Regions from separate parts of the Homo sapiens genome. Here region 2 is linked to region 1. The links come from fine-mapping of genetic effects on gene expression. A gene starts in region 1. The other region holds a variant in brackets. All regions are shown on one strand. Distances are from middle to middle.

Region 1 (8,317 bases):
CTCATTTCTCTGCCAGGGCTTCTGTCTTGAGTTCTCCAAGAGCCTTTGGGCTTCCCCGGATTCCCAGTGAGATTCCCAGTAGGGGAGGCTGCTGACTACGTTGCTTCTAGACAAGTGACCTGTCACTGGTGCTGAAACATTTCCTTGGAGGCATGGGTGCCCCATGGTGAGAGGGAGTAAGAAGTATGGATTCAAGAGTGTCCCTGCCCCCATGCCCTGGCCCTCCTCTCTAGGGGAATCTACTGGGCCTTCCTGATTAAGAGACTTCAGTCAGGTGTAATTTGTAGACATCAGACCCTCTGGAATCAGGGCTGTGGGCTGGCTGTGGAAACTGGAGGAGACAAGATGAATCCAAGCCCTCAGGGTGTTCCTGATTCTCAGGCGACAGAGAATGTGGTCCAGGTGTCTCCGAGTGGGAATGCTGAAAGGGACCTTAGGCTAGAGCCCTGACTTTAAAGAGAAGGGGTCAGGAGGCAGCCAGTGACCATGACAGTCAGTATGATCACCTAAAAATACCTGCATTTATCAAGCTCCTACTACATCAGCATCAGGTAGATACCAGCCACACGTTAAGCCATGAGACCCTCACACCACCCCGTGAAACCGACATTATCTTACAGAGGAGGAAACTGAGACTCAGGAAGGTGTCCAGGGACATACAGCCCCGCCCGAGGGGAAGGTGAGGTTCTCAGCAGGTTTTTGGAAGGAGGGGGACACACAGGGACCTGAACTGGAAGGGGAGAGGATTTGAGGGGCTGAGAAAGCTATCGATGACAAGACAAGCATGAAGTAAATGCCAGGGAAGAGGATGCCCCAGTTAACGGGGGTGGGCCTCCCACACACCCTTGCCCTTGAGTCTTGGCCTCAGCCTGCACCCACCATGGATGTTCCCTGGGAACCTGCATATCTCCACACCAACTTGGGCCAGCCACTGTGGGGAGAGAACCCCTCCAGGTGAGCCCCTGTGCCTTCCCCATGTTGGCTGCCCCATGCAGGATGTGGAGGATCCAGACTTGGGCAGCACTGGATGAGGGACTTTCCTTTAAGATACTCAGGCCTGACCCTTTGTGACATGCTTACATGGGAAGCTGGTGTCCCCAAGTCTGCTCTGACTCTTGAGGAGGGGGTCAGGAGGGGGCAGGAAGGCTCTATACCGAGCCACATCTCCAGGACCACCTCCAAGAAGGGACTGTCCCGCTAGCCCCCTCAGGTGCCTCCATCCCTGTCTGGCCTCCACAGTGCACCAGCGCAGGGCCTGACCTATGGATTTTCTGCCACTTCTCAATCCACTTCACTCTAGCCTAGTACTTCATTACACAGCGGCCTCAGCAACCCCATCATGGAGGGCTGTGGGTCTCTGTGGTGGCTTCTGGAGGCTACATGGCCCCCACCTTCTGGACTTCAGCCTTTTAGGGGATCAGGGTCGTCCAAGGAGCCCTGAGCTTAGAGACCCCCCCAGGGCAACCTCTCATTGCATAGCTGGGGAAACTTTGGCCCAGGGAGTGGCTGTGACCCCCTCAAGGTCACACAGCAAGTTAACAAGTTAACTTGTGGCATAAAGTAGAACACGGGGTCCACCTGAGCACCCAGCTCCACAGGGCCCCCCAGCTGGATGCTGGCTCCACCTCACTCCCCCAGCCCTGCTCCATGCCCAATGCCAGCTGCCCAACCCCCACTCACCTCCAAGGCTCCTGGTCTCCGTTTTTCTTGCTAATTAGAGGTCTCAGCAATGACTCTGCTGTCCCAGCCATTTTAGAGCCGTCATTAATTTCAAGTGCCTTCAGAAATAATCATCATCGTAAAACCCTGCGAGCTGCTGGGATGCCAGTGGATAGGACCAGCATAGAGCAGGCATGTAGGCAGGCCTGTGTGTGCCACCCTCTCCTTTCTGTGCCTGGGGGACCCTTGGTCCTTGCCCCAGCTCCACCTCCTGCCTCCTCAGCCTCTCAGAGTGAAAGGAGAGCAGGACTAACATTAGATACACACAGAGCTTCAAAGCCCAGCTCTAACTCGTGCACAGAGTGAACTTGAGCAAGTCACCAGCCCTCCCAGAGCCTCGGTCTTCTCATCTGTACAGTAGGAACAGCAATGCCAATCTTGCAGAGAGACAAAGATGTGAAGTGTGGCTGAGTCTGGCTTATAGTAAGGGCTGAATACATGGTGGAGGGCCTTCTCCCCTCCTCCTGTGTTCCCGGGCAAACCCATTCCAGCTTCTCCACTTTGCAGTGAGCAGTCAGGCTGGCTCCTTCCAGCCACTGGCTCCTGCTTTATTGGGACTTGCTGAGTTCTCAGCCTGCAGCCAGGGTCTGCTGTGTGCCCACCTATGAGACACGCAGTCTCAGATCTGCTCTTGGGAGCACCTAGTCTGAGGATAGAGGGAAAAGATTTGGGCCTTGCCTCTAATGTCATTTCAGTCTGGGGAGAGGAGACAGGAATAGAAGAGATGGGTCTTGGTTGGGTTTTGAAGCACAGGTAGAAATCAGGGAAAAGGCACGCCACCAGGGTGGTCCAGCAGGCACAAAGGCCTGGGGTGCGGGGAACATTCTTCAGCTGTAGCTCCTGGACATGATCCCCTGGTTGTGCCAGAGCACACTTGGACTAGGCCATCCCGGTGTGTCACATTCTCCATGGCCCTGGGACCCCTGAGAGGACTCTGCTGGGAACCACCCCACCCGACAGGAGAGGAGAGATGCCTGTTCCACAGCTCATGCAGAGGTAACTGGGTGGGGACCCAGTGACAGACCCCCTTTTCCTGGAGTCTCTAGGTGACAATGCCAGGGACCCGTACTCTCACCAGGCCCAAACTAGACCCTCAAAAAGGCCTATCCTCCAAGTTGTTCCCCCAAAGCTCCCCGTCGTTTCCATTGGAATAAAACAGGGAGAGCTGGGAGGGGTCATGTCTTTTGGAGACAAAGGGAAAGGGGAATGGCTTGGATGCCATTGACAGTGGAGAACCGAGGCCAAGGGGCTCTTCCTCCCAGACACAGCTCCGTGGTCATCCCTGCTGCCTCCGAGGCGCGGAGGGATCATTGTGGGCACCAAAATACCCCACCCTAGGACCCCAGCTTCCTCCGGTAGCACCTGGGGGTTAGCGGGGTGGAATGAGTGGGCTCTCCCCCATTTCTCCGCCGAGATCACTGAGGCAGGGAGCAGGTGAGTCGGGGGCGGAGAGATGTGGTGGCCGCGCCTTGCCTGCGTCAGTCACCGCACCAGGAATAGCCCTCGCCCCCGCCCCCGCCCCCCAGCGGGTCTGCGCGCCCGCCGGGTGCCTGGCGGAGCCTTTACGCAGGAGCCAGCGAGCGTCTATTCCTGTCGGGCTGGTGGGAGGAGGCGGCGCGGGAGGGCGGGAGCGCACGGGTAGCTCACAAACAGCCGGGGTGGGGGGGCTGGGGAGTCTGGGGAGGGGTCCAGGCAGCGCGGAGTTGAGGGACCGGGGAGTCGCCTGCGCTGGGCTCTGGCAGGGAGGGGGACTCCTGTGCTGGCCTCCCTGCTTCACCTCCCACCTGTAAGTCCTTCTGCCGAGCCTGCCCCCTGCTGGTCCATTCAGCCATAGAAGACGAGTCCAGTTCCCTTTCCGTGGCTTGCTGGCTGTGTGACCATGGGCAGAGCCTGGAACCTCTCTGGGCCTGGGCTTCCCTCCCTCTGTCACAGGGGAACAATAGTGCCTCCCCCAGAGTTGCTGGAGGGTGAACGTACAGTTCACAGTAGAGCATAGCATGGACGCCTGCTAGGAGGGACTCTAGCTAGGCCTAGGTTGAGGATGGGCATAGACATAGGAGACAGGAGAAAGTGCTCCAGACAGGACTGTCCAGAGCAACGGTGTGCCAGAGAGACTGAGAAGTACCCAGAAATGGTGCAGCTGGAACAGAAGGTCTGTGCAAGCCTTTGGGCTGTGTGTGAGGCTGAACAGCGAGAAACAAGGTGCTGTTGGGGGTGGGGAGAGGTCCCTCCGTGGCAACCAGGCATCTCTGCAATGATGTTGCGCAGGCTTCCTGGGAGAGGGGGTGTCACTGGAACTGGGATTCCAGCGTCTGCCCCAGAATCCGAGAGGCTTTGGGCTAGATCCCCTCCCCCAGCCTCAGCTGCCCCTGTGGACTCAAGCTATTAGGAGTATTCATGTGCTAATGGGTTGTTCCCAGCAGGGGAGGAGGGATGGCCGTGCCGGGCGGTGTCAGCATTGATGGTTATTCTAATAAAACTGGCTTGGTGGTAAAGGGCGTCTGGCTTCAAGGAGATGGAGGGGGTAGTATAGGGAAAAAGGTGAGGTCCTGAGGGTGGTAACCTACTCTGCAGGCTTTGCCAAGACATCCCTGCTGGCCTAGTTTCTGTATCTGAGGATCAAGGAGGATCTGGATCTCCGAGGAGAGGTCCCATTCCTTGGGCCCGTCTGAAGTTGTGGCCCCAGCCGAGGATCCCCGGGACCATTCCGGGAGGAGGGAACAGTCAAGCCCAGGCGGAGGCTCTGCGCTGCCCTCTGCTGGCCACTGGGTGCAGGGCCTCCGGACGGAGCGGGCCAGAGAGGCCTGCCGCCCTCTGCTGGACAGGAAGCCAGGCTGGGCGGGGACCCCGGCTCCTGGGTAGAGCTGCCGGGCCAGCGCGGCTTCCTCGCCGTCCCCTGGAGCTTCCCATTCTGCCTGCCTCGCCCTCCCGCGCTAGAATGTGGGCCCTCTAGCCTCGCGGACTTTCGAGAGGAGGGGACAGGGCCAGGACGGGGGCTCCCGGTCGGCCTCCCCATGCCGCCCTCCAAACAACCCTGTTCGTGTAGGGAGCCCTGTCCGTCCTCGTGCGTGTGTTCGTCCACAGCCCAGTTAACACGTGTAAACACACTCGCGCGCTCACATGCACACGCATGTGGCAACACAAAAATCACACACAACGGTGTGCGCGCATACACCCAGGGAGGACCGCACGCCGGACTCCCCGACACCCGGCTGGCCCGGGACTCGCCCAGAGCCCCGGACCCGGAGGGGCGCGGCCGTGTGCAGAGCTGGAGCGCCTGGCTGGTGCGCCCCTCGCCTGCGCACCCCTGCCTGTTTCGCTGCCCTAAGCGTGCAGGGCAGCGGCTGGGGCGCCCCTCGCTCTCCGCCCCCTCCGCTGAAAGGAGACGAACCACCCCCCACCCCACCACCACCATCACCAGGTTTTGCGGCCGCGCCTTCTCCTCCCCCGCCCGGCTCCCGCGGCTCACTCGCTCCCTCCTCCCTCGATCCCTCCTCCCTCCCTGGCTCGCTCCTAGTGCTCCCTCCCCGCGCCGCTGCAGAGCGCGGAGCCCGAGCGGGAGCCGGCGCGGGAGCCGGAGCGGGCGGCGGGCGACAGCGCAGGCGGCGGCGGCGGCGGTGGGTCCTGGTCCCGGCCCCGGAGGGCGCGGAGTCCCCACCCGCGCCGCTCCGGCCCCTCTCCCGACGCGGGGCGCCGAGCAGCATGCGCGGCCGCTGCCCGCCGGCCCCGGCCCCGCGGCGGAGCGCGCCCGGCCTCGACCCCGGCCCCAGCGGCAGAGGCGGCGGCGGCGGCTCCGGGCCGGCCCAGGGGGCAGAAGCAGGCTCGCGCAGCCCCTGTCCCGCGGCCTGAGCGCGCCCGCCCATCCGCCCGCCGGGGCCGCGGCCTCCCGCCTCCCCACTCCCGAGCCCCGGCCCCGGCTCCGGCTCGGCTCCCGCCCGCGCGGGGCGGACAGACGGACAGCCAGCCCCGCGAGGGCGCGCGGACTGCCGGGCGGAGGTGTCGGAGGAGGAGGAAACGGAGGAGGGGGCTGGGCAGGGGCTGGGGCCTGGTCGGGCCGGCTGGAGAGACATGCGATTGGTGACCGAGCCGAGCGGACCGAAGGCGCGCCCGAGATGCAGGTGAGCCAGGCGGCCGCGGCCGAGCCCCGAGCGGGCAGCCCCGCGGCGAGTGCCCCTGGGGGCCGCCATCGGCCCTGGCTGCGCCCTCCTGGGGTTGCAGGGCACCTCGGTGCCACCCAGACCTCCTTTGGGGTCATAGGCCTGATTTCCCCTCAAGCCTCAGAAATGAAAATTCTTCCTTTTCCACCTCCCCTCTCTCCAACCCCAACAAATTCCGGGTTTGTAAGCTGGGAGCCTGGAGCTGGGGAGGGGCCCCCACGGGTGTCCCAGACCTGCTCTGGTCTCCCCTTCCTGTCCCCCCTCCCATTCTGAGTATTGGTCACTCTAGAGGGTAAGCCCCCTGCTCAGCCCTGGGTGGGTACCTCCCTTCGTGGACCCCAGGTACCCCCAGGCAGCCCCCACCAGCACCAGACACTCCCTAGCTGGTGGACACAGGTCAGGGGCTGGGTTTCTCCACAAGCTCCAGCCTGGATGGCAGCTCCCCACCACACACAAGCATCGCCCCTTTCCAGCTCCTGCCCAGTGAAAAGGAGATGGGGAGTAGGGAGAGTGGAAGGAAGGGAGTTGGGGACCGGGAGCGCCCAGGAACGCTTTAGGGGCCTCCCCTTTGTCTGCGTTCAGCCCGGGCTTCTCACCTCCTCTTGCCCCACTTTTCATTCTAAGGCAGAGCGGGTGGGAGGTGGGAACCAGCTGAGAAGAGGGAGGTAAGGAGGGAGCCTCCTGCTCCCCCTCACACCCTTTTCGGGGTGGGCTGTGGGCTCTCTGCTCTCAAGGCATGCCAGGAGATGTGACCCTCCGGGCGGATCCCACTTTGAGAAGGAGGGGTGGGGCCAGGCCAGTGGGCAGCCCCTCCCGGTTCCTGCTGGGGTCGCAGCCCAGCCTGGTCCAGCCTGACTGTGCCTGCACCTCCTCTTTGTTCTCAGAGGCCTTGGGGTTGGGGTGGGGCAGAAGGGGGCCTGAGAGGATGGGAAGAGCTCTGCCCTGAGCGGGTGGGAGTGCAGGAGGCCCTGAGGTAGGGGCTGTGGCATCTGGACAGCCCCTTCCTGCTCGCCCAGCCCTCCCTCAGTCCTCTGCTTGGTTTGGGCAGCCAGAGGGCGCATAGCCCAGCCTGGCCCGCGGCTCTGGGCTCAACCCTGTTGGTCATTATGCCAGTGGCTTCAGCACTGGTGCCTCCCATGCCCAGGGAGCAATGAGCCGGGACACCCAGGCGGCAGAGAGCCTGGGGCTTCCCCAGATCCAGCGCAGAGTGTCAGTGAGGAGAAGAGGGCCAGCTGCTCCCAGACCCTTTGTCCTTGTATAAGCCAGGGAGGAGCTCAAAATCCTCACGCCTCTGGGAAGGCACTAGCAGCAGGTCTACTGGGATGGCATGCCTGTCCTTCCTGCTTTCTACCCGTGGCCCGAGGTGGGAGGGAGGGTATAGGGTGGCACCGGGGAGAGACCAATAACTCCTTGGAACCGTGCTGAAAGAGGGCACAGACTCACATCGGGGATCCCAGCAGCACCCAGCTGCCCCTCCTGGAAGGGGCTTAGCGAAGGCAGGGACAGGCACCCTGTGGTGTTCTTGTCTCTGCCCCCCTCCTCACCCCCTGACAATTTAAGTGTGAGCCCCTGGGTAGGGCTTAGTTAAAGCTGCAGTGTTCCCCAGGTTCTGGAGTTAAAGAGTGGGAACCAGCTTTTAGGGGGATGGGCATGTGCTCAAAGCCAAGGGCCCTGTGTGACTGGGAGGGAGGTGGAGAGACTTACCCCTTGCGATAGTCCTCTTTCATCTGGGCTCATCTTCATCCTCTGTCCTCTGGGCATCCATTTCTCCTATATTGGGTATTGTTTTCTAAAACCCAGACTCCCAGAGGGACACCTCCCCCACCCCAACCCCCCAAAAAACAACCTCTTGTGGAGGTGGGTGGTTGTTCTGCATGAGGCTAGACGGGATCCCTGGTGCCGGTGAGGGCTCATGTGTGGTGCTGCTCTTCAGGCGCCTTCAGCCGCAGATATCTGGAGAAGCACAATTGGGGTTGGGGCGTGTTCCTGTTGGGAGATAAGGCAGTGCAGTCATTCGTGCAGGGTCCCACGGAGGCATGAGGCAGCGTGTCCAGTGGAGGGTAGGGGAAGTGGAGCCAGGGAAGGGTGGGGGGCGGTGGGTAGTAGGTGTGGTGGTTTCAGAGTCAGGGCCTTAGCTTGCTGGCTGGAGTCTCTTGGGCTAGCTGTCCTGTGTGTGGCACTCTGTGGAAGTGGCCTTCCAGCCCCACCCACCTCCATGGTTAGTCTCTGGAGGCTTTCTGTTCTGTTTCCACCAGTTCCTCCACGTATCCCCCCATCCTCACCTGGCTTGGCCCCGCATCCCCTCACAAAAGGTCCTTTCCTCTCCTTCTCCTGACCCCCTCCTCCAAGAAGCCTCTCTGCCTGCTTCAAGTCATTGCCCCTCCTTCTCCAGTCACCCACAGCATAGAACCACACTTGTTTGCACTGAATATTGTACCAGC
Region 2 (8,317 bases), 56 kb after region 1:
CCGGGGGTGACCTCTGCTGCTTCTCCTCCACTCACCCCCATGGCGGGGGCGGGGGTGGTCAGCCACCCTCAATCCAGGTGAGACAGGCCCCTGCCTGAGCCCTGCACTTCAGAGGACCCTGGAACTCTGCCAAAACGGGCTTCTTCCCTCGGCCTGCCAATGTGCACACTCAAGTCCTGAGGGGTGTCCCGGGGGTGGGTGCAGCGGGGAGGGAGTGGGCAGAGCTTGGCCTTGTCAGCCGGGGTGTCTGTCCCCACATATGTGAACAAGGTCCTTTTAAGGGTGGCACAGAGCTCAGGGTAGGGTAATAGGGGAGGGGCTGGGCCAGGGCCTGGGGCTGGGGTCTGAGGGTCAGTTCTTCCCGACAATTCCATAGCTGAGCCTGGCCTTCCAGGCTGCTGCTTGGCAAGGGAGGAGCCCAGAACGTGTTTTATTTAACAATTTGTTGGCTTGATTGATAACCTTTAAATATCTAGATACATGGTGTGTGGGCCTCCATTGGTACCATTACCCCATACCTCACAAGTGTTAGGTGTGGGCCGGGGCAGGGGCTGGGGCGTTACACAGGAATTCCCTATGCTCTGAGGTAACATCTCTCAGCAGTGGGCGGCAAAGAGTGACTAAGGGCACAGCTGCCAGCAGGCACCAGGCTACGGAGTCTCGCCAGCTGGCAGGAGAGACTTGTTCAGCAATCAAGCCTCCAGTGTACAGATGACAAAACTAGAACCTAGAGGGAGGCAGGGACTTGTTCAATGATGTGCAAAACCCCGTGGGCATGCACGGGTGTGTGCAAGTGCAGGGCACCCATGCGCGACAGTGGGGGCAGTGCGTGCGTGGATGCGAGTGCTCACAAGGGCATGGATTGCCGGGTTGGTGGGCTTTTGTTCTTCTCCACATTTGTTCTGCATCAGAGAAGATCCATCATTTCCTTCTCCTGTAATGATGTTGACCTGATTAAAATCTTTATTGGGTTTCACAAAATAATTTCATACACAACGTTCCCTGGGGACCCTGCTGGAGGAGGTAATGGCAGGGGATTGAGTGGCTGGGGGGCTAATAGGAGAAGAGCTAGTGACAAGTAGATTTAGAAAGAGGTTGAGGTGGAAAATAATTCGTGTGCTGCTGAAATGGTCAGTAGGGGACGGGCCAGGCAGCAGGGAGGTTAAAAGCCATGCCTTTTAAGTCATACTCTTAGGAAGCTGCAAGTAGAAACATTGACATGGGCCAGCCATGAGAAGATGTCGGATGGCCCTGGCAGAGGGCCTGGCAGAGGACAGAGAACAGTGCGGGTCCACGGCTTTAGGAGCAAAGGGTGGATACTCATATATCTCTCCCAGTCCAAGCCTCTGGTCCATCGCTGACCCACTCCTGGGTCAGGAATGTCAGGGTCTGGGGGTGCACTGGGGTCTCAGGGCCAAAGCCAACAGTCTCCAGATGGCGAGAGCTGAGGGCAGGCCTTGGAGGCAGCCCCTTTCTGCTGTTAGCAGCCATGTCGTGGGTACGTTCCAGGATGTGTGGTACAACTAGCCTGGCTCAGTCCCCCACTGGCCGGGTGACCTTGGGAAAGTCATTTCACCTCTTGAGCCTGAGTGTTCTCACCATAGGAAGCATGAGAGGATTCAAAGAAATAGTAGACGCAAAGTTCCTGGCACAGGTGGGTGCCCAAACATGACAGCTGCTATTGTTATTATTACTACTGTAATTTAGTCATTCCGTTATTTATTCTATAAGCTCTCATTCATTCTACCTACTATCCTATGCACTGGGGATAGAGCAATGAAAAGTCTCTGACCTCATGGGGCTTACATTCTAGAGGGGAAACAAACACCAAATGAAATAAGTGGCAGGGTCTCACTCTGTTGCCCAGGCTGGAGTGCAGTGGTGCAATCATAGGTCACTGCAGCCTGGACCTCCTGGCCTCAAGAGATCTTCCCACCTCGGCTTCCCAAAGTGCTGGGATTACAGGCATGAGCCATCATCCCCACCCATGAATTGTATTTCAGATGGTGATAGGCACTATGGAAAACAATTAAGCAGGGACTTGGGGGTGCTAGGGAGGAGCTGTAATTTAAAGAAGTGGTCAAGGAAGGCCCCACTGAGAAGATGGTCCTTGAGTATGGATGCAAAGAGGGTGAAGCCGTGAGTCCCGGGGGGCCTGAGCTAAGAGGATCTGAGGCCACAGGAACAGCAAGTGCAAAGGCCCTGAGGCGGGCGTGTGCCTGGCATGCAGAAGGAGCATTGACGAGGCCAGCATGGGGGAAGCAGTGTGAGCTGGGGGTGGGGGGAGCATGAACCCTGAGGTTAGAGAGGAGAGGGGGCCGAACCAATATGACCATGTAGGCTGCTGTGAGGACTTGCGCTTTTCTCCAAGTGTGACAGAGCCTCGCAGGGTTAGCCTTCTCCCCGCCAGACGCTGGACTGCGTGGGGGCTTGTTGTGCCTTTCCCAGCCCCAGTGAGCCTGGTACCTGCTCCCCACCTGAGACAGGATGGACGTGCCAGTTTTTGCCTCTTCTCAGGAAAATCCCCAGAGGCAGCCACAGCCTGATGCAGGGAAGGATTGGGGTGGGGGTGAGGCTGAGCAGGCCCCAGGCCCCAGGACTGCATGGCAGCCCTGCCTCGGCATCTGCCCCTCCCTGTCCCAGGTTCCAGCCACCTCTCCTGGCTCTTGTTTCCAGGCCCTCCCTATCTGGGACACCCCAGCTTGTCAGTTCCAACCGTAGTTTTTAAATTCAATATAATTTTCTTTTTAGAGACCCGGTCTCACTGTGCTGCCCAGGCTGGTCTTGAATGCCTGAACTCAAGAGATCCTCCCGTCTCGGCCTCCCAAAGTGCTGGGATTACAGGCGTGAGCCACCGTGCCCAGCCTCCCACAGTGGTTTTTGTTTGTACAGTGTCACCAAGAGCAGGAGTGAAATCAGTACACTCCCTGGGGAAATGAGCATGCTCGAGGCCAGACAGAGCGCCAGCTGGACCTAGCCAGGTGCCAGGCTGGAAGCCCCATCCATGTGAGTGCCCTGTTGCCACAGACACAGCTGAAAGCACCCAAGATCAAGAAGAAAACTGAAACCCGCTATGGGAGCTGTGACCAGCTGGGGCAGAAGGCTCAAGACGAGAGGCCCCTGTGAGGGACAGGGCTCACTCCTCCTTAACTCAGCCCACTCCCTCGAGTGCCCGCTCTATGCCAGCCAGCCCCAGAGACAGTCAAGATAAGTGCATTCCAGGATCACCGTGCCCAGCCGAGGGGGAAGGGGCTGAAGTCTAGCCCATGCTCCACTTGCCAAGCCTTGCACCACAATGTGAGGCTGTGGCCACCCGGAGAAGGGTGTCTCTAATTCTCACAAAGGCAGTGTGCGGGCTGGCAGACCTGGTCCCTGCCAGGAGGAGCTCCTTAGTGGTGGTGGATGGACCAGGACTAGGGCTGGGGCCTGGACGGTGAGAGACAGATCAGTGAAGGTAAAATCACTGCTCAGTGTTGGAGGGACTGACGGGGGTCAGGCCAGGAATGCCGGAAGAGCTGGCCCAATCTGAGCATCCCCAAGAAGGTGCTGGGAGTAGCCAGGTTCATGTTGGGAGGTGTGTGGGGAGTGGGGGGTGGTACCAGGGAACAGCCCTGGCAAGGGCCCAGAGGTCTGGGCAGCATGGCTGGATGGGGATTTTGGAGGGGAGGGGGAGCAGGCACTGGGGAAATGGGCAGGGCACAAGTACCCAGCTGGGGGGCTTGCAGGCGACACAGGAAAGCCTAGAGGATTCTAAACGGGATCTCAGAGGGCAGCAGGTTTGCATTTTAGAGCAGGCTCTGGGTCCAGTGTGCAGGTTGAATTGGAGGAGCCAAGAGGACCACTAAGGCCCCCAGGAGAGAGATGGAGTGCTGGAGTGGGGCAAGAGTTAAGGGGTGTGGTGTGAAGACCACTGGGACACAGATGTTTCCTGAGTTGGGAGGGAGGAGCCAGGTTCTAGCGGGATGGATAAAGTGGGGGTGCTGCAGGCCCAGGACTGAGATGTGGGGCAGAGCCCTGGGAGCAGAACAGATCTGAGGGCCAGGGAAACAAGGGTGAGTTGGGGCACACCTGCCTGAGCGGTGTGTGCAGTCTGCCATTCCCACCCGTCAGAGGTTTGGGAGCCAGGTCTAAACCTGGGCCTTCTCACCCCTCAGCTCTTGCTTCCTCGTTCCACTGGCCCCTGCAGCCTTCTCACCCTCCTCCCTCTATCTCTGCCTGTCCCCCACTTACCCATCCAGGTCCTCAGATAGAAAGCCCTGGAGTAAGGGGTCAGTGGAAAGGTTTTTGCTGAGTGGAGTTATTTTTACTAAGTGCCCAGATATTTTCAAAGTAGGCAAAGCTGGCAAGGTTGCATGCTTCTAGGGTCTCACTAAATCGAGGATGGGGGCATGGACCAGCCTGGCTGGCCCAAATATTTGCCGTGTTGCTGGGTAACCACCAGTCGGCCTGCAAGCTGGCATCTGTGGAAACGAGGACTTGGAAGGAAATTCACACAGCCACCAGGGGCCTGGAATCAGTTGGCAAAGCCAGGAAGCACCCCAAATGTCTCCTGAGAGTGGGCAGGCTGATCTTCCGGAAGCTGGCCCCCAGGAGAGAACAGGCATGAGATGGGATTAGCAGCTTCCTAC[G/A]GACACCCAGTGGCTGCAGGAGCCGGCTTCCACAAATGAGCATCACGTGGCTCCAGCTGCATGGCCTAGAGGGGGAGGCCGGCTCACTGCTCCATGCCCAGGCCCTGGTTTCTCTCTCCCTCTCTTGTTCTGGGCAGCTGCTGTGGTCACCCACAAGGGAATATTGGCTGTCTCTATGAGGATCTGCCCATACCATGTCCAGGGAGAACTTGGGGCAGGGAGAGGCACATAGAGAGAGGAGGCAGCCCACCACACAGTGAGGTTGGAGGGGCTCTGAGAGGATACCTACACACACACACATGCACCCATTCTGATCAACTGGCCTGCTGGAAATTCCATGATTAGGCATGGAATTCCTTAAGAGTTGGGAAGGACATCGGAGCGGGCCAGGACACCTTACATGCAGGGCAGCGATCCCAACCACACTAGCCCAGGCCCAGACAGCACCAGCCTCTGCGTGCACATCCTGAGAGCTGGGGAGAGCACCACCCTCAGAAGCATTTTGTCATCTTGGAGACAGCAATAACTGCTAGCATGTTTCTGAGCCTGAGCTTGACTCTTCCCCTGTGGGAAGGCAGGGGCTATGGGAACACCAGTCACATATGAGGCTGTGATGACCCAAGTGGGCTTTCCTGCTGCCCTAAGAGCCCACAAAGGAGGGCTCAATGGCCAAGCTCTGGGAGAATAGTGTGACAATGTACAAAAAGTAAGACCTCTACCTGTACTTCTCTAATCACAGAGAGCAGGTGGGCAGGCAGAGAGCAGAACCTGTGAACTCCAGACCAAGCACCCCCAGGCTGGGAGAACCAGTGGAGCTTTGCTTCTCTGAGCCTCTATTTTCTCCTCTGTAAAATGGGTACAACATGAATACTGCAGGGGCCATGGCGAGCAGGCAATGGTTAATGGTCATAGAGCCACCAGCAAGGGCTGTGTGACTGGGAGATGAGGAGGTGTCCCCTTTCCCTCTCTGGGTGGCTCCTGCTCTGACCCAAGCATGCCTTATTTCCTCTGGCATCAGAAAGCCCTCTCCTCACTCTATTCCATCCTCCCTCCTTCCTTTCTCCCCTTCCAGCTGAAATCCTCCACACGTGGTTGCCATGAGCCTGCTCCGTGCAGCCTGGACAGCTGCCTTCCGCTCACCTCCACCAAAGGCCTCCAGCAAAGGTCTCAGTCTCAACCCCTACAGGCCTGTCCTCCTCCCCCTCCTCCTCCTTCTCCTCCCCTTTGTCCCCCCTCTTCCCCCTCCTCCTCCTCCTCCAGCATGAGGCACAGCTGACCATGTTCCTTCACACATTCTGTCTGCCCAAGTCTTTGCGGGCTGTGCGCTCCAGCCTCCCCCTGCTCCTCCCTGGCAGTGAGGACAAGGGCTCTGGCTTAAAGGACCTTTGCTGAAGCCCTGTCTTCTAAAATCTTATTCAGTTCTCCCATACCTCTGGCAGCATGGCACACAGGTGATATTCTGCCCATTGAACAGACGGTGGGACTGAGGCACAGGGAGAGGAGGGGACAGGCTGCAACGTAAAGAACCCAGGGTCTGCAGTCTTGGGTTCACACCCCCCTGCCATTTGCTAGTTGTGCCACCTTAAGCAGGTTGCTCAAGCTCTCTGGGTCTCAGCCTGCTCATTTGTAAAGCAGGGAGGAAGATAATCATATCTTTCTCATCGAGTTGTTAATTAATGAGTGAAAGCACTTAGCCCAGCACCTGCCTTATCGTGAGTGCCTGGTAAGTGTTGGCCCTTCCCTGGGGCAGAATCTCAATGAGGAGGAGTCCAGCTCTGCGGGCCCCACATGAACCCGGGCAGCACAGGGTGTGGGCAGGGCGGGGAACTCGGGGCCTGAGCTGCAGCCTCAATCCTGGACTGGGCAGCCAGGGACCTGAGTGAGCAGGGAAAGTGCTGAGCTTGTTGGAGGTGGGAGGCAGGAACGCAGACTCACCAGTTCTGGCCTCCAATAGGATGGGATGGGATGGAGGGCCGGGCAGTTGATGAGGGATTCTGCTAAAGTGGGGTTTCTTGTGTCTGCAATGACTCCCTTCCTCTCAGTCTCCCTGTTTAAAAAAAGGGCCTGGCTCGCTCAGCGTTTGTTGGAAGGAAACTCAGGGTGCCCTGCCTACCTTCCTTCAGAGCTCAACTCCAGCACCTCCCCTTCCTTATACCAGTGGCCACCGCCCTCCCTTCTGCTCATTGTCTTCATTTTTTAGAGGTGGGTGGCTCGGGGCTCTGCATCACTGGGAGTCGTAGCACTGTGCCCCACCAAGTGCCCAGGAACTGTGGGGCTGGGTTCAAATCCCACCCAAGCCCTGCCTTTGTTCACAGAAGGAAGAAAGTTCCCATCGCCAGGCACCCACCATGTGTCCCCATCCATAAACTCATCAGTCCTCACAAACCTCTCCCTTCCGAATCTCCAGATCCCCGTGCTTGGAGTTGGTACCCACAGATTCATCTGAGAAAGGCCCTGCATGGCCAGCTGGGGTTGCCAGCTCAGTTCTCCACTTCCTTGTCTTCTGGGAGGAGTCCCTAGTATTCCCCAAGGAACCTCCCCCTTCCCTCAATCCTTGTAGTGGGACTGACTCCTCCCATGCCCCTGAGGGTCGGCATGTGACGTGGGGCTTGACCACTGAAAGGGCCACATGCTTCTGATCACAACACTTGGTTCAGCTTTGGGCACACGGCCCAAGCTAAATCAATACCACTAAATTCTGGATTTTAGCTGGAGCTGGTGGGAAGATGTTCTGATTCTCCTGGACTTGGAGCCAGTAGGACATAACACTAGCATTTCCAGGGGCCATGGCAGGGAGGGAGCCAGTTTAAGCCACCACTGAGGAAAGCAGGGTAGAAAAGACAGAGAGAGACAATGTCCTCATGCTAGTGTTTGAGCCTCTAGATCCAGCTGTGCCTGAAGCCCATATACCCCTGGATTTCTCAGTTACATTAGAGAGTAAATCCTCTCTCTTTTTTTCTTTTGCTTAAACCACTTGGAGTTCATGCTACTTGTACCCAAGAAAACCTTAACTAACCTAAGAATAAAAATGTTGAAAGGGCAGGGACAGAGCGCTGTGGCACTGCTATAGGGACATCCACCTGGACTGACAGTAACTGTGAGTTGGTTCCCTTGGGGGCAGCTGCTTGACCAGGCAGTCACAATCTCTGCCCTGTCCTGCACCTTGATCCTCAGGGCACTATCCCAGCCTCACCAGCATCAAGTGCAAAGCCTCATGGGAGCGCAGACACCTGCCTCCTCATGCCCTGTCAGAAAAGAGGCTTTGGTCACTCTGGCCTCACCTACTCCTGATGAACCATGTAGAGCTTTCTCAGGGTCCTCAAATCTCCTTCATGATGGCCCCTTGGAGGGTTGCATGGAGACCAGTGTCACAGTTCACAGGCAACTCCACTCGGCAGCTGCAGAAGGGCTCTCTCTGGGGACCCAAGAAAGTCTGGGAGGCCCATCCACCAGCCCCAGAGAGGTAGGCAGACAACAGGATGACAGGCCAGACTCAGAGCAAAGGAAGGTAGGAGGGGCTGTGGGCAGGAGAAGAAAGGGCCACTTCAAAGCTCATAAAATCACAGCCAGTTGTACGACCCGAGATGAGCACTGGCTGGTTCCTAAATTATGCAGATTTGTGCAAATATTATGCAAATTAGTCATGCAAAGGTGGCAGGGGGCACTTGCTGACAGCCTGGCTCTGCAGC

Which allele goes with the higher level. Alleles are on the strand shown, and positions count from the first base shown. SD is a standard deviation of normalised expression in the study named.
For the expression in skin of the gene that starts at base 5,235 in region 1, A is the low allele of the variant in region 2 and G is the other (moderate effect, 0.47 SD a copy in TwinsUK).

Evidence for each region. PIP is the estimated chance that this variant, and not a neighbour inherited with it, causes the effect.
Region 2: its variant is the best candidate, but not a certain one, in a credible set for the expression of LINGO1 in skin (TwinsUK, PIP 0.73).

The regions. Positions count from the first base shown.
Region 1 is chr15:77,629,830-77,638,146 of GRCh38, reverse strand. It overlaps LINGO1 (leucine rich repeat and Ig domain containing 1), which reads left to right and starts at 5,235. Exons shown (of 2, transcript NM_032808.7): 1 at 5,235-5,837. The coding sequence starts at 5,832. It overlaps LOC105370906 (a long non-coding RNA gene), which reads right to left. Exons shown (of 4, transcript XR_001751806.2): 4 at 7,686-7,862. RefSeq lists enhancers at 4,282-4,411, 3,853-4,416, 7,811-8,317.
Region 2 is chr15:77,573,887-77,582,203 of GRCh38, reverse strand. All of the region lies in intron 3 of LOC105370906 (a long non-coding RNA gene), which reads right to left. Among named protein-coding and RNA genes, the nearest start is that of LINGO1, 55 kb to the left of the region's middle. RefSeq lists enhancers at 1-278, 7,931-8,317. The variant G/A (reference allele first, on the strand shown) is at 4,629.